Homo sapiens: one gene and its partner. The protein of the gene in region 1 purifies or fractionates together with the protein of each later gene. This does not show direct contact. Each region holds a gene or a part of one and is shown in the gene's direction. Other genes may lie near its edges.

The links. The genes of interacting proteins can lie anywhere in the genome.
Region 2: the proteins of OSBPL8 (region 1) and FGD1 purify together in Homo sapiens (affinity purification with mass spectrometry; one large-scale study listed by BioGRID and IntAct). This does not show direct contact.

Annotation. Positions count from the first base shown.
Region 1 is NC_000012.12:76,371,108-76,374,994, reverse strand, and holds part of OSBPL8 (oxysterol-binding protein-related protein 8), read left to right. Parts: intron 1-1,561; coding exon 1,562-1,651; intron 1,652-3,410; coding exon 3,411-3,547; intron 3,548-3,887. UniProt on the Homo sapiens protein: Lipid transporter involved in lipid countertransport between the endoplasmic reticulum and the plasma membrane: specifically exchanges phosphatidylserine with phosphatidylinositol 4-phosphate (PI4P), delivering phosphatidylserine to the plasma membrane in exchange for PI4P, which is degraded by the SAC1/SACM1L phosphatase in the endoplasmic reticulum.
Region 2 is NC_000023.11:54,468,616-54,472,502, reverse strand, and holds part of FGD1 (FYVE, RhoGEF and PH domain-containing protein 1), read left to right. Parts: intron 1-1,015; coding exon 1,016-1,189; intron 1,190-1,742; coding exon 1,743-1,920; intron 1,921-2,045; coding exon 2,046-2,487; intron 2,488-3,626; coding exon 3,627-3,716; intron 3,717-3,887. UniProt on the Homo sapiens protein: Activates CDC42, a member of the Ras-like family of Rho- and Rac proteins, by exchanging bound GDP for free GTP. Plays a role in regulating the actin cytoskeleton and cell shape.

The DNA of each region.
Region 1 (3,887 bases):
TTAAGAAGTGATTGGATAGAAATTTCTTAGTAAATTAAAGGATTGTTTTTACCAAATACCAGAAGATATGTGTCATCTTGCAGTCTAGCTGTGTAAACCAAGGCACAGTTGTATTAGTCACTATTTCTGTGTAATAAGTTACTCTAAAACTCACAGACTTAATAACTATGTGCTGTTCCTCATGAGTTCTGTGAGTCAAAAATTTGGACAGGGTATACTGGGGATAGCTTATCTCTGCTTCATAATGTCTGGGGTCTCAGAAAGACTTTGTAGGCCATGGGTGACTCAATAGTTAGGGACTGTAATCACCTGAAGGCTTATCACTTACATATCTGATACCTGGTCTAGGGTGACCGAAGGACTAGAACTGCTAATCTGAGCACCTGTATACATGGCCTTTCCATGTGACTTGATTTCCTGACAGCATGACAGCCTCAAAGTAGACTTCTTACTTGGCAGTTGAGGGTTTCAAAGTGCAAGTGCCCCAGTGAGCAAGACAGAAACTGCATTTCCTTTCCATGACCTAGCCTGAGAAGCCAAATTATATCACTTCCACCATCTTCTATTATTTGGAGAATTGTAAGACCACCCAAATTCAAGGAGAAGAAATATAGACCCCACTTCTCATTGGGAGAGTGGCAAGGTCTCCTTGAGGAAGAGTATGTGGGCTGAAGGGGAGAGGGTACGTATTGTCAAGGCCATCTTTGGAAATTTTTGTCTGCCTCAAAATGAAAGGGAAATTTGAGAACTTAATGTGAATTAATTGTTCTTGAACAATAGTATATTCAGATAAAAATATTTCTGTAAACTAGTAATATTTATTACTAAATTGCTGCTATGTTGATATCCAGCTGATAAGCAATTTTGCTCTGATAAAAAAGACCTCTTAAGTATTATTTGATGCAATGTCTTTTATTTTATTTTTCTTTCACCTTGGCAAAATTTTCCTTGTATGGTGATGATAATGTTTGAAGATCATGATGAATGAGTTCTTAAGTATATATGATGCCTTTAAGTATGACATTGGAGCATCAAAATTTTGTCTCTAAGGAGAGATGTTAGTAAGGCATTATAGTAACTCAGTGTATTCCTTCTAATTTTATTTTTTGGAGGCTTTTTTTGGCTATATATTTTACTTTTGTTTGTTTGTTTTTTAAGGAAGGGGTGTTATTTATTTCAATGGATCGTTAATTCCATTAGGTTTATTGAGTTGTTATTGCTTAAGATAACGTCACATTGATAGGGCACAGTCTTGACAGGGGAGGACACAGGATTTGAGCATACATGGAACATGAGTCAGTTATATCAGGGTGATCTTTCTTAATATGTTTATTTTGATTTAATATAGTCTGCTTGTTTTATCCTATTTTTTTCATAGCAGCAATTCAGATTTCTTATTAAACATTTCTAACTAAAATTTGAGTCAGTATTTTTTTACTGCTTGTGCATTCAATAGTACTGTAACTATACAAGCAATTTTTGTTGGGTTTTTTGTTTTGGTTTTACATTATATGTAAATATAAGTGAAAAGTAAAATGTTTAACATTTTCTCGTTTAAAAGCCATTCCTAGGGAGTAGTGACTGTGTTAATCAAATATCAGGGAAACTTAAACTGGGAAAAGAAGTCCTAGCTACTTTGGAAGGTCATTGGGTAAGTATTTTGTATATGAGCTTTACAAAAAGAATTTTATTCTGTGGGAAAAAAAAAATCACATTTAAAATTTAAAACTTATTCCGTTGCTGAAAACATCACTATTTAACATAAGCTTCATCTTAATAGCAGATATTTTGGTGGTGTTCTGTTATCAACAGTAGTTAATTTTGTGTAATATTTTATTTCCAAAACTTAAAATCAGTAGAAATAGCTAACACTTATATATGACTTACTGCATTATTTAAGAATGTTACTCATATTAACTGATTTAATATTTATAACATATAACGCTATGAGGTGAGTATATAGGTGCCATGCCCATTTTATTATTGTTTATTATTGTCCCCATTTTACAGAAGAGGACACTGAGGCACAGAGAGTTCACATAATTTGCTCAAAGTAGGTAGTGGAACAAGAATTAAAGCCCAGGAACCCTGGCCCCAGGACTGTGCTTTTATGCACAGCACTCTACTCACATAGAAGAAAGAGGCATAGTTCCAATTAGAGTTATATTCCTTTCAGTGGAACATGGAAAGGATATAGTGGTGTGTGAGAGCAATGGCTTTTATTTACTTCTCTGCTAACCTAAATTCATATTTATGTAATTTTGTTAAGAGACGCTTAAATGAATAAAAAGAATCATGGTACTGCATGGATATACCATACTATGAGCACTGAGTATATGCTCCTTTCTGCATGCAGTAAGCAGAAAATGTTGAGAAATATGAGAAAGTGAAGTTAGGGACTTTGTTAAGTGGCCACATACACTCTGAAAATTTTTTTTAATTGCCTTAAATCTGAGAGTCTTCTGGAAAAAAGATAAAGCAGCAGTCATTTTTAAAAAATGAAATTTCTGTCTGGGTGGGGTGGCTCACACCTATAATTCCAGCACTTTGGGAAGCTCAGGAGTTTGAGATCAGCCTGGGTGACATAACAAGACCTCTTCTCTACTAAACATAAAAATAAAAAAATTAGATGGGCATGATGGCACATGCCTGTCCCAGCTACTCAGGAAGCTAAGGCAGGAAGATTGCTTGAGCCTGGGAGGTGGAAGCTGCAGTGAGCCATGATTGTGCTACTGCCCTCCAGCCTGGGTGAGAAAGCAAGACCCTGTCTCAGACAGATAGATAAGATAGAGATGAGAGTGAGAGATGACAGAGAGAGAGAGAAGGAGAAGGATGGTTAAACAGGTAGATAAATTAGATAGGTAAAATAGATTAGATAGATAAGGTAGATAGCACCGCTGCACTCCAGCCTACACAAGAGAGCAAGACCGTCCATGTCTTAGATAGAAAGATTATTCGATAGAGATAGACCTCAAATTTTTAATGCTAGTAAAGGCTCTTTCAGAGGGATGTGTGTGTGTGTATGTTTGAGTATATTGAATCCATGGATAGTCAACAGCATCTCATTGTAGCTGCAACAAATACTATGCTCTACTTGGACAGTTTGGAGATGGTTATTGAGGCTTTGCATGTAATGTTTGAAATTTATTAAGTAAAACTTATGAAATTTCACAAACTGGATATTCAACCAAATTCTTTTTAATTAACTAGTATTACGTAGTCAATCTTAATGTTTTTATAAAAATGATAAGAAACTTGGAGTTTTTGGAAAAGTGCTAGTTATATTTGTTTTAAAAATGCTTTTAACTGGAGGATTAACCAGAAGAAATTATCACCGTCATATTACTATACTATATAATTGCCTTCTAAGTATAATTCTTTACATTAATTTTGAATTTTTTTAAATATAGGATAGTGAAGTTTTTATTACTGATAAAAAGACTGATAATTCAGAGGTTTTCTGGAATCCAACACCTGACATTAAGCAATGGAGATTAATAAGGCACACTGTAAAATTTGAAGAACAGGGAGATTTTGAATCAGAGAAGTAAGTATACTGTTTTACAGCTAACTTCATGAGGATCAGAGAGTAGTTTTTCAATTCCTTAATGATATGGTCATTTTGTCACCTTCTGTCATATCTTAATTCAGCAAAATAGTTTATCATTTGTGGAAGTGACAGTATTCTGTTTTTGTGTATATGAATGTCAAATATAATATAAATCGTCTTGCTTTTCTGTAGCTCAAAACTACTCATTTTTTTCTTTCTCAATTGTTCCAGCACCTTAAAAAAAAAGAAAGAAAGAACGTTTTTGTTTAAATAAGATTACAGGACTAATTAATGACTCTTAGTTTCTACCTGGCAACAGTTTTCTAACCTGATTTAA
Region 2 (3,887 bases), on another chromosome or scaffold:
AGTGAGGGAAGAGGGACAGTATAAAAAGGCCTCCCCTTTTTCTGAACTGGCTGCTTGATTTAAAGTTATTCCTGTGACCTGAACTCTGGATGTTGCACGTGTGTGTGTGGCAGAGGTGGAAGATGCATGTGGGTCTGTGTAGATGTGGAAGTTGAGGAAGGTAGTACAGATTGCTGAGAAGTTGGGATTTTCTTTTTCATTTTTCTTCTTTTTTTTTTTTTTCTTGAGACAGCGTCTTGCTCTTTTGTCCAGGCTGGAGTGCAGTGGGGTGATCTCAGCTCCCTGCAACCTCCACCTCCCAGGCTCAAGTGATCCTCCCACCTCAGCCTCCCAAGTATCTGGGAATACAGGTGCACACCACACTGCCCAGCTAACTTTTATATTTTTTGTAGAGACAGGGTCTCACTTTGTTGCCCAAACTCATCTCAAATTCCTGAGCTCAAGCAATCCTCCCTTCTCAGCTTCCCAAAATGCTGGGATTACAGGCATGAGCCACTGTGCCCAGCCAGAAGTTGGGATTTCAAGAAGCAAAACTTGCTCATGAAACACAATTTCATCATTTTTAAGCACACTTAGCTGCACAAAATTGTAAACAAGAAAGTCTAGATATTCTCAGGGCCTTAACAAAAGCGTTGAAGAATGGTTTATACTCAGCATACCTATGTGGCTGTAGAAACAAGGGCTGCAAACGCATGTATAAACTTTAGGGTGCTCACAGCCACCCCCAGCCTGGTTAAACTCCCTAGTGATACTGCCTGCTGACATACATGGAATCAATGCACTAGTCACAAAGAATTCTTATCTATTGATGAAAACAGCCAGCCCCAGCCCTGGGTCTGGCTCTCCATCTGAGGGCTAGGATAGGGGCTTCCCAGAAAAACACTGTGGCCAGGAAAGGGGCTCAGAGAAACCCAATACCCCAGATAGCTGCTAAGACATGCCAGTCCTAACTTTAACCCCAGTCCCCTTTGGGTTAAAGTCAGTTACTTCACACCCATTTTCTCCCTTCCTGCAGGGCTGCACCAGGGAAACCGGATCCTGGTTAAAAGTTTGTCCCTTGACCCTGGCCAAAGCCTAGAGCCTCATCCAGAAGGTCCCCAGCGGCTTCGCTCAGACCCAGGTCCCCCGACTGAAACCCCTAGCCAGCGTCCTTCACCACTGAAGCGGGCACCGGGCCCGAAGCCACAGGGTAAGTGGTCCTGGAAAAGAGCAGAGAAGTGGCCCAGGGGAGGGTACAGAGGAGGGGAGAAGTTAGCCAGTGGCAGAGAAGAGGGTTTGTTAGAAGGATAGGGAGCCACCATGCTCCCAGGGCAGTGCTACCTACCTAGTGCACAGAGTGCTGTGGCCTGAGGCTAATGTGTGCATACTGTGATCTCACCTTAGCCCCTTTGTGTCTACCTCAGGCAAAGGTGCAGATTGGTGTTTGTGGAAGGGGTTGTGGCCTGGCCATGACAGCCAGCCACCTCCAAATCCAGCTTTTTTTTTTTTTTTTTTTGAGACAGAATCTCACTCTGTCACCAGGCTGGAGTGCAGTGACATGATCTTGGCTCACTGCAACCTCCGCCTCCTGAGTTCAAGCAATTATCCTGCCTCAGCCTCCCAAGTAGCTGGGACTACAGGCACGTGCCACCATGCCCAGCTAATTTTTGTATTTTTAGTAGAGATGGGGTTTCACCATGTTAGCCAGGCTCAAATCCAGCTCACTGATGTCTCCCTTCTCTCTTCCCCATTCGTCTCTCCAGTGCCCCCAAAGCCCAGCTACCTGCAGATGCCCCGGATGCCCCCCCCACTGGAGCCCATCCCCCCTCCACCATCACGCCCACTGCCTGCCGACCCCCGAGTGGCCAAGGGCCTGGCTCCCAGGGCAGAGGCCAGCCCCAGTTCTGCAGCAGTATCCTCACTGATTGAGAAGTTTGAAAGGTGAGTCTGGTCCCTAGGGCACCCTCTAGGGGAAAGGGGGAGCCTGGGACAGGAAGGGATAGTCAGGAGAGGCCTCTCAGTCAAGCTCATACCCTGCTTCCATGTGTGTCCACCACCCACCTCAGAGAGCCTGTGATTGTCGCCTCGGATAGACCAGTCCCTGGCCCCAGCCCAGGTCCCCCAGAGCCAGTCATGTTGCCACAGCCAACCTCGCAGCCACCAGTGCCCCAGCTCCCCGAGGGTGAGGCCTCCCGCTGCCTGTTTCTGCTGGCTCCTGGGCCCCGGGACGGTGAGAAGGTGCCCAACCGGGACAGCGGCATTGATAGCATCAGCTCGCCATCCAACAGCGAGGAGACCTGCTTCGTCAGTGATGACGGGCCCCCCAGCCACAGCCTCTGCCCTGGGCCCCCTGCCCTGGCTAGTGTGCCTGTTGCCTTGGCCGACCCCCACCGGCCTGGCTCCCAAGAGGTTGACAGTGACCTGGAGGAGGAGGACGACGAGGAGGAGGAGGAAGAGAAGGACAGAGAAATCCCAGTGCCCCTGATGGAGAGACAGGAGTCTGTGGAGGTACTGACCTGTGTTCACCGAGAGGCAGGTCCATGTGGAGAACCTGGAAGCGCCTTTTGTGCTTGATTCTTCCCCTAGCTCAGTATTTCTCGAAATAGGACCTTGTTTCCAAGCTCTGTGACACTGGGCAAGTCTTTTCCCTTTCTGCTTCCCTACCATAAGCCTCAGTTTCCTTATTTGTAATACGGAAAGTCTCTTACTTACATCCATAGAGACTTCTCAACAGCTGGAGGAGGGGCGCAAGAGCTAGAGCCCTGCAGGGGCCCGAGGCTGTGCAGATGAAGGCTCTTGGCAGCAGAGACCCCTTTCTGTGCCCGGGCAGCCTAACATTTCTTCAGAAGGCACCATCGCACTTGAGTTAGATCTCAGCCGGAATACTTGCTCTGCTAGGACCAAGCTCAAGTGTAGGGGCCAAAGCCAGGGACTGCCGGCATGGCAGGTAGTCAACACATATATCTAAGGAATAGGAAACTAGGCCAACAGGCAATGAGTTTTATACGTTCTTATACTTTTGTGCTTTTCTCACACCCCAGGTACTCAGCAAGCCCTTGCTGATAGTGTACTGAGTGGGTGAATAAATGATTAATTAACATTTATATACCATTTAATCTGTAGTCTGATGTGTTTTATTTATATTAAATTATCTAATTGTCTCCATTACCAATGGACTTCAGTCCTATTATTATTTTGTTTTGGTTTTGTTTTTGTTTCTCACCAGCCTCTACATTAAATAGATTCTATTATTATCTGTATTTATGGATGAGGCGTCCTAAATACAGAGCTGTTAAAGAACTTACACAAGCTAGTGAATGGCAGAGCTTAGGATTTGAACCCAGGAAGTCTGACTTACCATCCCACATGCTTAACCACTACACTCTGCTGAGTGAATAGAGAGAGCGGGTGAATGAGTTGTTGAGTGAGGGAGTGCACGTCATCAGAATGGAGGGGTAGGCTTTATGGTAGACTGGGGACTCAGGGATGAAGCTGAAGGACTTACAGATCTAGAGATGGGGGTCAAGGTTATCCTAGGGTGGTATTAGGCTTAGAGTGGCATGGGAACTGTTTTAAGAATTCTGGGGGCTTGGGTGAGGGTTACGATAGAGGATGATGGATCAGGGGTTACTGTTTCTCCTTTCCAGTTGACTGTGCAGCAAAAGGTGTTTCACATTGCCAATGAGCTCCTGCAAACTGAGAAGGCCTACGTTTCCAGGCTCCATCTCCTGGATCAGGTGAGTGGCCCCTTGGGGGTACGAGGGCCCCAGGACCTTGTAGGTGCGTTTCAAGGAGGCAGTGATAGGGCCTGAGTTCAATCCCACCATTGTGGCCAGAATTTAGAGGCAGTAAGGCTCCTCTCTGACCTTGAAGTCAGCTTGTCCCTGAAGCCATCTCTGATTATGCCC